Regions from separate parts of the Homo sapiens genome. Here region 1 is linked to region 2. The links come from fine-mapping of genetic effects on gene expression. Tissue or cell type: whole blood. Region 2 holds a variant in brackets; the other region holds the start of a gene. Each region is shown on its reference strand, or each on the opposite one. Region 1 holds the start of PAX8 (paired box 8). Region 2 overlaps ZNF560 (zinc finger protein 560).

Evidence for each region. PIP is the estimated chance that this variant, and not a neighbour inherited with it, causes the effect.
Region 1: it holds the start of PAX8, and the variant in region 2 is the best candidate, but not a certain one, in a credible set for the expression of PAX8 in whole blood (TOPMed, PIP 0.85).

The regions. Positions count from the first base shown.
Region 1 is chr2:113,276,071-113,281,443 of GRCh38, forward strand. It overlaps PAX8 (paired box 8), which reads right to left and starts at 2,851. Exons shown (of 12, transcript NM_003466.4): 1 at 2,761-2,851; 2 at 2,300-2,399. The coding sequence starts at 2,324. RefSeq lists a promoter at 2,324-3,453.
Region 2 is chr19:9,487,883-9,493,255 of GRCh38, forward strand. The region is part of intron 2 of ZNF560 (zinc finger protein 560); the gene reads right to left. Among named protein-coding and RNA genes, the nearest start is that of ZNF560, 8.0 kb to the right of the region's middle. The variant A/C (reference allele first, on the strand shown) is at 2,597.

The DNA.
Region 1 (5,373 bases), not on the chromosome of region 2:
TCCCTAAGCACGGCCGGTCTCAGGAACAGAGGTGCCTGGGGAAAAGGGGGAACCTGCTAAAACCCGAGAGATAATGGGCTTGTAAAAACCAGAGGGGTCCGCTTATGAGTTTAGCTCCGGTTATAGACAACAGTGTCAGGTAAGCTGATCAGAAAGACAGACGGCCTCTCCCTCAGGTTTGCCGAGGGAGGGTTCAGAAAAGAAACAGGGAGCGCCTTCAGCAGTCTATGCGGTTATAGGCCATTTTCTTGTTTTATTAGCGTTTAAATTAAACTATGAGAAGAAAGTCTCATCTTCCCTCCCTCGCCACTTTGTCTATTTGTTTTGGAAAGAGGGTAGAAGAAGCCCCTCTGTCTTCCCGAAAAGAAGAAAGGGGAAAAAAATTACCTGGTAGGTCCAGGGGCAGAGGGCTCCCTCCCAAAACCCAAGCGCGATTTGCATCCAAGCTAGTGGGAAAGCGCGCATCTCATCATCTGGGACTGTTCCTGATTAAAACTACAGTAAAAATAAATTGTGCCTTTATTTATTCTTTCCATACTCTATTTCCATCTATTCTAACGAGTACTTCTAGAATGAAAATAAGTAGCCGCGAAAAAAAAAAAAAGCTCATCTGAGGGACGGGGACATCGTCTCATTTCTTGGGCAGCGGCAGAGAGTAAGGGTCCAGCCCGGCCACAGTGAATTTGATTTCCGAGAGCACTCACTCCTCCTGCCACCGCCGGAAGGGTCAGGGGAAGGTTAGGAGGAAAGATGGACCTCCAGAGCCGAGCAGAAGTGCCATTGCACCAGCTTGGCGCAGAAGTGCCATTGCACCAGCTTGGCATGGGCACCGGGCACTGCACATTAGGCCTCAGGGATGGTCCTGGCGATGTCTGGTATCGTACCACGGTTTGGCTAAAGATTAAGGGACTAAAACCTGATCCTGACCTTAGATAGTGGCCTAGGAGCGCTCGTGGTTCCAGGACGCGGACCGTAAAGAGGTGCCAGGGAGCTCTGCTCGGTCCCAGGGCTCCCCAACCCCGCCGCGCCGGGGAATGGCTGCGAGGTCTCTCCCCTGAGGACCTTGAAGGGACCCCGCGCCTTCTGGGGGCAGCCGGACGATTCTGGCCCAGGTCTCTGAGGGGAATGGGGGCCGGGAGGGAGCATTCGTCTGCAGCTCTAGAGAGAACCCGAGTGAGAAATCTTCCGGCGCCCCAGGGGGTTCCCGCTCCCCTCCTAGTTGGGCCATGGCCCTGGGACTGGAGACTGCGCCGCAGAGCCCGGGCCCCCGCAGTGCGCTTGGCTAAATAGAGATCTCAGCCTCGCTGCGCGCCCGATCCGACCCTCCTTATTATAACAAATGTCCCGTTTGCAGAGCGGGACATCATATTCGCGGAGAATTCATTCTGAAATATTGATTTCCTCTCACTTCGCCGGCCCAAATCGATAGCGATGCGCCCTGGCCCCATAAATCGCCTTCTCTGCGGCCGGCCGGGCTCCATCCATCACTGCGGGCCGCGCTGCGCCTCCACCGCTGTCCGCACTCGCTGCGCGCCGGGACGGCTGCGCCCACCAGCCCTGACCCTGGAGCTCCTTCCCAGCAAAGACCCTGCCCAGCCCTGGCCGGGAAGGGGGAAAACAGGCATCGCGGCCTGGGAGCTCGAGTGTGTTTGAAGGCCCTGCTTCCGGGCGCAGGTGGGGAGGGGGTTTTGACTCCGCGAGCGGCTTAGTCCTCACCAGCCGGACGCCCCGCGCGCGGCGCCCGGCCTGCCCGGTGCTGGGCCAGGAGGAGTCGGAGAGCACCTGAGTGCGCTGCCGGCTCCCGGGCCCGGGACCACCGGCTCCATTGCCGTTGGCTTGAGAGATGCGGGGAGCTCACAGTCCAGCCAGGGGAGTCACTGGGAAGGACTGCGCGCACCCGAGGAAGAGGACTTAGAGGTCGGGGACGGGGAAACGGCAAGTCCAGCACCGGTGCAGCCCAGGGACAGAGCACGAAGAATGTCCACACTAATGCGCCATGCAAGGCTGGGAATGGAGCTCAAAGGAAACCCCCTCTAACTCCACAGAGATCCCCTCACCGATCCATGTGGTCCCTCGAAACCGGGCAAGGGCGGCTCAGCTGGCCGGGTGGAACCCCAGTGCCCGAGAACAGCGAGGCGGCTCCAGCGGAGGGCCAGGCCCCAGGCGCCCCAGCTGGGTCCCCACGCGGGTGGGTCCCGCGAATCCCGTGCTGACGCTCTCGAGATCCAACCACCCGAGCGCACGCACGGACGCTCAGCGGCGCGGGGGCTCGGGGATCCTGACCACACCGCGTTCTTACCAGATCTGATGGAGTTGTGAGGCATCGCCGGGGAGTCGCTCGCAGCCCGCCGAGGGCTCGGGGCTTCCTCCCGTAGGTCCGGGCCGCGCCTGCCGCTGCCCTGCACAAACCCAGGAGAAGGGCATGAGATGCGATGAGATTCGATGCCTGCATCCTCAGGCCCCCTCCCCAGGCCTCATCCTTTACACCTGCATCGTCTGCCAGGAGTAGGAGGATTTTTAGGCGAAGTAGGGCCAACCTCAGCCTAGCCTAGCTAACAGGCTTCCCGGGAGGATCAAGGATTGGGAGTGCGCTGAAGAAGCTCCAGACTCCAACCTCCGTGCCCACTCCCTCCGCTGTCCCAGTCTTATCCCGTTTAACTTGGGAGGGAAAAGGCTGCCAGGCATCCTGGGACCCTCTCCTTTCTTCCATCCCCCGTCCTCACTGCTAGCCAGCTTCCAGCTAACCCCTGGGTGACATACCTGGCCGGCCGGCTGCAGGCCCTCACTGCTTGGGTCCGCCCGCGAGGGTGCCCTGGGCCCGGTGTCTCTCCTCCTTCTGAAGTTTGTTCCCATCCACCCGGCATCACCGACCGGTTTTATCCCGCTGAGGCCCTGGGAGATGGGTCTGGCGAGGCTCGTAGGCCGCGGATTGGCTGGCTGGGTGCAGGGGGGTGCGGGAAGGGGAGGATTTTGCAAGGGGGACATGGCTGAGTGGACTCAGGAGTTAGAAACATTCGCTGGGAGCTTCTGTTTCCAGCGGAGGGAAGAGGGAGGCAGCTGAGCCCTAACTCAGCAGGCCTGGAAATATTGGAGGAGTGGGGAACAGAGGCCTAGGAGCCTGAGGATGAGGTTCTCTGGGTCCTCCTGGGTCACTGACCACCAGAAGTGAGAGGGATGGTCTCTGTAGGATGCCCTCCTTGCCCCCTGTCTCCCCTGGTTTGCTCACCAGGAAGCAGCCTTTTCTTTTGTAAAAGGAAGGAGGGAACTTCTGTTTTATGCCTGATTCTTTAGGTAGAGCCTGCTTTCGGGGCTGTAGGCAAGATGCTATTACCTTCTCACCACAGCTATGACCTCTTCCAGGGAAGAATCCTGAGCAGCACCTGAAGCCATTCCCTCTGTTCTACACAGATAGCGTTCACACCCTTGCATTGTCAGGCTAACAAAATTGTCACATAACCCATTCCACAGCAACTCCTCGCCTCTCTCCTCTGGAACACACACGCAGCCACCTGCCCTCTTTCTTGCTCCTTGAGGATTTTGAACTTGGAAGAAGAGTTCAGGGGAAGGGCATTGAGGGCCTAGACTTCATCTCTGTGTGGAAAGGCCTTAGAAAGGAACAGGACTGAGCTGACCTCTGGCCTGGTCTGTAGGAATCAATAGCCTCAGCAATATGGGGGCCTGGGTGTGGTTAAGAAGGGGTCCACTGGTGGGAATGATGGCAGGGTTGGTGAGCCCTGGGACCGAGCAGAGCTGCCTGGCACCTCTTTACCTTAGTGATGGCAAAAGCTGCCCCCTCCTTCCTCATAGTTCTCTCAGTCGGGGAACCGGGGTACACGTAAGATTGTGAGTGGGTATGAGTGAGCAAATGTCCTGGAACACTGGCAGGCCTGGGGGTCAAGGCCTGGATGCTCCTCCAATCTTTGGCCAGACCTCTGGACTCAGGATTACAGTCTAGAGGACAGCCATGCCCTTTTCAGTGATGGCTCTGCAGGCCTGGTGGGGTTGTTCTGGGACAGGAGGCTAAGAAGCCAGTGGGAGGGGGGCAAGGAAGGTGCAGGGGAAACTGGGATATTCAGGGGGATTGGATGTGTGTGTGTGTGTGTGTGTGTGTGTGTGTATGCACATATGTACACGTGTGTGAAAACACATGAACTATTTTTCTGAATTAAAAAAGTTTTCTCTTTCATGTCAATCCACAACCTCCTTCCACCCAGTCTTTCTCATTTCTCAATTTAGGAGAAATGAATCATCTTGTGAAAAAAGAGAGAAGAAGATGTGTATCCCTACATGTTTCCTCCACATTTGCAAAGAGGGGCTGTAAACAAAAATAGTTGGTGCTTCATCATTTTAAATCTTTCTCTAAAATTGTAATTTTAAATATCTCTGTGGTTTTCAAAGCTCCAGATCCCTAACTTCTCTGGCAGTCCCTCCCAGAGAGAGACAATCCAAGGGTGTTGGGATGGAAATGGATCTTGGCATAGGTCCTCCGGACCCCATGGGCCAGTTTGCTGCCCTGGATTGTGTCCTGCTGCAGGGGAGGTGTGGAGTGTGGCAGCCACAGCAGAAACTCTCTTTGTCCACCCAGGATTCCCTCCCACCAGGGAGGCAATGCTCCAGGGTGAATCTAATACGCCCTCATTTCAAACAGCTCTGACAACCTTAGAGATTCTACCCAATCTAAGGTTCTGATACGTACCAATAACCATTGACTCTCATGCAATCATTCTTGCCTGTGCACATCTTTTCTGCCCAAGCAATGAACCCTCTCCCTTTCCTATCCCCTTTTTGGGCAAAATTTCTTAGAGGACAAATCCAGCAAGTTATCAGAACATTCCTGTCCCATGTATAAATTTATCTTTAAAATTTCATTTCAAGGTAAAAACAATGTGCACTGTTCAAGGTTACTCCTCAGGGAAAAACACACCCCACACCTTGACAGTACCTCTTCTCCAGACTGCAGGTGACATAGCAGGTGACCAGAAGACTCAGCAGAGAAGATCTAGGACGAGCAAGAAGTGAGAATGCAGTGAACTTCTGCTGCAGAGATAAACACAGGCCTCCTGGACTGACCCTGCTTCTAATTAGAATCAGAAATCAGGCCTGGGTTCCTTGGTACTTCCTAATTCTCTGAGACCAAGGCCAAGGAAATGTCATTAACTGGTGCTTTAACTCTGTCTCTTTGGCATCAGTCTCCTCCTCTGCAAAACGAAAGGTTTGAAATACATATATTTTTAAAATCACCTATTATCACAGTATTTTTTCAAACTTAAAATCCATGATGCTTTTAGTTAAGAATAAAAATCATATGCCTTCCTATGATGATATTTGAAATTTTAAAATAAATTTGCACTGTGACTAATAGACTTTCAATGG
Region 2 (5,373 bases):
AATGACAATATGGAACCTGGAACGAAGACATCTGGTTGGATCCAGATAAGAAACATGATCTTAAACCCCACTATGATTTGGATGTGGTCTGTCCCCATCACAACTCCTGTTGAGGCTTGGTCCTCAATATCACAGCACTGGAAGGAGGGGCCTAATGAGATGTTTGGGTCATGGGGGTAGATCTCACATAAATAGATTAATGCTACCAGGCAGAAGTGAATTTTAGCTCACACAGGACTGAATTAGTTCCCACAGGAGCTAACTGTTATAAAGCAAGGCTGCTGTTTGTGTTTGGTCCCTTTTGCACAAGCCTGCTTCCTCTTCTGCCTCTCTACCATGTTTTGCCGCAACACGTGAGCCTCATCAGAAGTAGAGCAGATGCTGGGGCCATGCTCTTAGACTTTCCAACCAGCAGAATCCTGAGCCAAAGAAACCTCTTTTCTTTATAAATTACTCAGGTATTATGTCATAGCAATAATAAAGAGACTAACACAACCTAAGACACTTTGAGCCTCCCTTACCAGGGACGTAGCTTACCCTTTGGTTTCTGAGGAGAAAGCCTTCTGCTTGAAATTTTTGTGACAATCTCATTTGGTCCAGATACCTTGGAAGGTAATATATATTCTCCTCAAGATCCACACCATTATCACTTATTTTTATCACTAGAGTCCTAACTAGTCCAAAATCCAGGGAGAAAGATATACAACATAATGCAAGAGAAAAAAGCTCACACAACAAAAAAATTCCAACTCTGATAATATATCACAAGAAACCCAGGGAACATGTATGGGATGGATTCTAAGGGTATTAGATCAAGAAGGTTAAAATGTTAACATTAGATAGGCCCAAATTCATTGATATGGAGCACTGATATGGTTTGGATCTGTGTCCCCACCAAATCTCATGTGGAACTGTAGTCCCCAGTGTTGGAGGTGAGGTCTGGTGGGAGATGATTGGATCATGGGGGCAGATTTCTCATGAATGGTTTAGCACCATCTCCTTTGATACTGTCCTCATGATCTGGTCATTTAAAAGTGTACAGCACCTCCCCCTCATTCTCCCTTGCTCCTGGCTCCTGCCATATAAGATGTACCTACTCCTGCTTCACCTTCTGCCATGACTGGAAGCTTCCAGAGGCCTCCCCAGAGGCAGAAGTCACTATGCTTCCTGTACAGCCTGCAGAACTGTGAGCCAATTAAACTTTTTTTATTCTGCAATTTAAAACTTTTAATTAAAAAATAAACTTTAATGTTGAAAATGCAAACTTGGAGAGGGCAGAAAGATCACACACAAGGCTGTCACTTCACACTTGGAGGTTTGCACAGTGGCTCGACAGAGGTGCTCCTCACTTCCCAGACAGTGGGGCGGCCAGGCAGAGGCGCTCCTCGCTTCCCAGACAGTGCGGCGGCCGGTTAGAGGCACTCCTCACTTCCTAGACACTGCAGTGGCCAGACAGAGTCGCTCCTCACTTCCCAGACAGGGTGGTGGCCAGGCAGAGGTGCTCCTCACTTCCCAGACGGTGTGGTGGCTGAGCAGAGGCGCTCCTCACTTCCCAGACGGTAGGCAGCTGAGCAGAGATGCTCCTCACTTTCCAGACAGTGGGGCTGCCGGGCAGAGGTGCTCATCACTTGTCAGACAGGGCGGTGGCCAGGCAGAGGTGCTCTTCACTTCCCAGACAGTTGGGTGGCCGGGAACTTCTTTATAAATTACCCAGTCTCATGTATTTTTTTTTTTTTGAGACATGTCACCCAGGCTGGAGTGCAGTGGCGTGACCTCGGCTCACCGCAAGCTCCGCCTCCTAGGTTCACACCATTCTCCTGCCTCAGCCTTCTGAGTAGCTGGGACTACAGGCAGCTGCCACCACGCCCAGCTAATTTTTTTGTATTTTCAGTAGAGACAGGGTTTCACTGTGTTAGCCAGGATGGTCTCAATCTCCTGACCTCATGATCCGCCCACCTCAGCCTCCCAAAGTGCTGGGATTACAGGTGTGAGCCACTGCACCCGGCCAGTCTCTTGTATTTCTTTATAGCAATGTGAGAATAGCCTAATACAGGTACTTACTAGACATTTTGAATTTTACATATTAGCTAATGGACCATGGCATGATTCTAATAGCTAAACTGGTTGGATGATTGAAACTTGTACTCATGACCTAGTTAACAGAGTTAATATGTAAGAGCTTCCCTGGCTAATGTAAAGGAGGGAATCCTAGACACACAGGAAGGTTGCACTGAATTTATCACATGTGATCTGCACAGCTTCCCTTCTTCAACCTACATTAAGGGCCCAGAAGACACCCTCTTCACAAAGGCATTCAGAAATAGATAACTGAAGGGAATACTTCCATTCTTGAAAAGTTCTGTTTATTCTCCTTTAAACATTTGTTAAGACTACAGGAGATAACAATCATTAAGATGAGTTCCCTGTTTCAATGGGGATGATGAGAACCTTGAGTGCCAAAAACCAAGTGGGTAGCACTTAACTATCAAAGACAATGAGGCCACATCGAATGTCAAGGGCACACTGAATGTACCAATAATTGGAATGCTTTGGCCTGCAGAGATTATTGGTGTTAGCAAACTGATCACATTTCGTC[A/C]CTAGCATGAAACAGATAAGAACCCTACTATAACAGGGATTAATAAATCTTGTTGTAATGTGACATATAGTAAATGTTATACTCTGTGGGCCACACAGTCTCTGTTACAAATACTCAACTCTGTCCTTGTAGTATGAAAGAAGCCTCAGAAAATATATAAACAAATGAACATAGTTGTTCTGTTCCAATTATAATTTACAAAAACAGGTTGAAGATTAGGTGTGTCCCATAAGCCACAGTTTGCCAATGTAAGTCTTGGAATATTGCTTGATCTATGTAACAAGAAGTCTCAAGTCTAATGGCCAAAAACCTGATAAGAGTCACCACAGGGGAGATTCAAAGTCTCTCACCCAATCACCAGACCTAGGTAACACACCACTCAGGATTGTGCAGAAGTCACATCGACTTTGGAGAATTACGGGGGACTATCATAACTTATATCAATTCTCCTGTTTTCCACCGAAATAGTCTTCAGAGGTTTTGCTATTACACAAAACATTGCAACACTCCATCACATTGAAAATATTTTGTACATGATATCCCATGAACAGGAAACAGTAAATAGTTTGGATACCTTTACAGGCTACAAAGTAGAGGATGGGAGATTCAAGAGCCAGCTAAATAAACAAAGTTGGTTTTGTTTTGTTTTTTTGAGACAGGGTCTTGCTCTGTTGCCCAGGCTGGAGTGCAGTGGTGTGATCACGGCTCACCACAACCTCCACCTTCTAGGCTCAAGTGATCCTCCCACCTCAGCCTCCCAAGCATCTGGGACGACAGGTGCACATTACTACACCAGGTAATTTTTTTTCTTTTAATCTTTTTTGGTATAGATGGGATCTCACTATGTTGGCCAGGCTGGTCTCGAACTCCTGGCCTCAAGCAATCTGCCTGCCTTGGCCTCCCAAAGTGTTAGAGTTACAGGCCTGAGCCACCATGCCCCATCCAATCAACAAAGATTTGTGGGTTCAGTTGTCTAGACCATATCAAGATATCCCCTCCAAGGTGTCATTCCTAGTTAGTGCTCCCCAAAATTAGGTGCAACACTTGGCAGACCTATAAGATTCTTGGCCAGGCATGGTGGCTCACACCTGTAATCCCAGCACTTTGGGAGGCTGAGGCTGGCAGATCATGAGGTCAGGAGATTGAGACTATCCTGGCTAACATGGTGAAACCCCATCTCTACTAAAAATACAAAAAATTAGCTGGGTGTGGTGGCACGCGTCTGTAGTCCCAGCTACTCAGGAGGCTGAGACAGGAGAATCGCTTGGACCTGGGAGGCAGAGGTTGCAGTGAGCCGAGATCCTGCCACTGCACTCCAGCCTGGGCGACAGAGCGAGACTCCGTCTCAAAAAAAAAAAAAAAAAAAACAGGGATAAAGGCTACTATGGCTCAACAGTATGGACTTCCATTTACCAAAGCTAATGCAGCTAATGCTACTGCTAGGTGCCTAATCTGCTAAAAGCAAAAACCAAAACTGAATATATAAGGGCATTAATTTCTTTTTTCTTTTCTTTTGGGGGGGGGACAGGTCTCACTCTGTCACCCAGGCTGGAGTGCAGTGGCATGATCACAGCTCACTGCAGCCTCAATCTCCTGGGCTCAAGCAATCTTTCTGCCTCATGCTCCTGAGTAGCTAGGACTACAGGCATGTATCATCAAGCCTGGCTAATCTGGGTGGTTTTCGTAGGGGGGTTGATTTTTTGTTTTCATAGAGATGGGGTTTCACCATGTTGCCCAGGTTAGTCTTGAACCAAGGGCATTAATTTCTAGAGTAACCAGGGGAGCCAGCTGGTGGCAAGATGATTACATTGGACCACTCCTATCATGAAGGTGACTAAGATTCATCTTCACTGGAATAGACTCGTGTTCTGGATATGGATTTGCCAGAAGCCTAACTAGTAGAGAGGCAAATCCATATAGGATTTGTATAGAGGCAGATTTGTACAGAGGAGAGGCAAATCCACTAGGCTTTTGCCTATACAATGCATAATCCATGCACTCACAAAATGCTTTCACTGCAGTCACAGCATTCACACAATACCATCTTTCATCAAGGAACCCATTTCACTGCAAAGGAAGTGCAACAGTGGGAACATGTCCCTCTCATCAGCTGGTCTCATCACACACCCCATCACTCAGAAGCAGCTAGTCTAAATGAAAGGTGAAATAGCTTACTGAAAATTCAGATACAGGGCCAACTGGGAGACAACCTCTGAAAGAATGGGATTCTGTTTCACAAGACACAGTGTATGCTCTGAATCAGAGATCACTAGATACTACTATCTCACCACAGTCAGAACAAACAGGCCCAGGAATTGATGGGTGAAGGCAGAATTAGCTCTAAGACAAAAATTTTGCTTCCAATCCCAGCAATGTAGAGCACTGTAATTTGGAGATCTGAGTCCATAATGGGGAATGCTTCCCCAGGGGCAACTATTTATTTGGTCCCAATACACTGGAAAGTGAGATTAACATCTGGCCCTTATAAGTTTCATATCCATTAAACCAAGAAGAAAAAGAAAAATAAGGAGGTGAGAGGGTATAATCTATTAACTGAAGGGATTAATCTCAACTACCAAAGGGAAACTGGGGTACTACTATACAACTGAGGCAAAAAGAATGATGTCTAGAACCTCCTAGCACTTCCATACCACTTAGAAAGGTTAACAAAAAATTACCGTAGAAAAAAGGCAGGAAAATGGAGGACCAAGATCCCTTCAGAAGGAAGGTTTGAGTCACTCCATCAGGTACAGAGCCCAGAGCTGCTGATTCTGGCT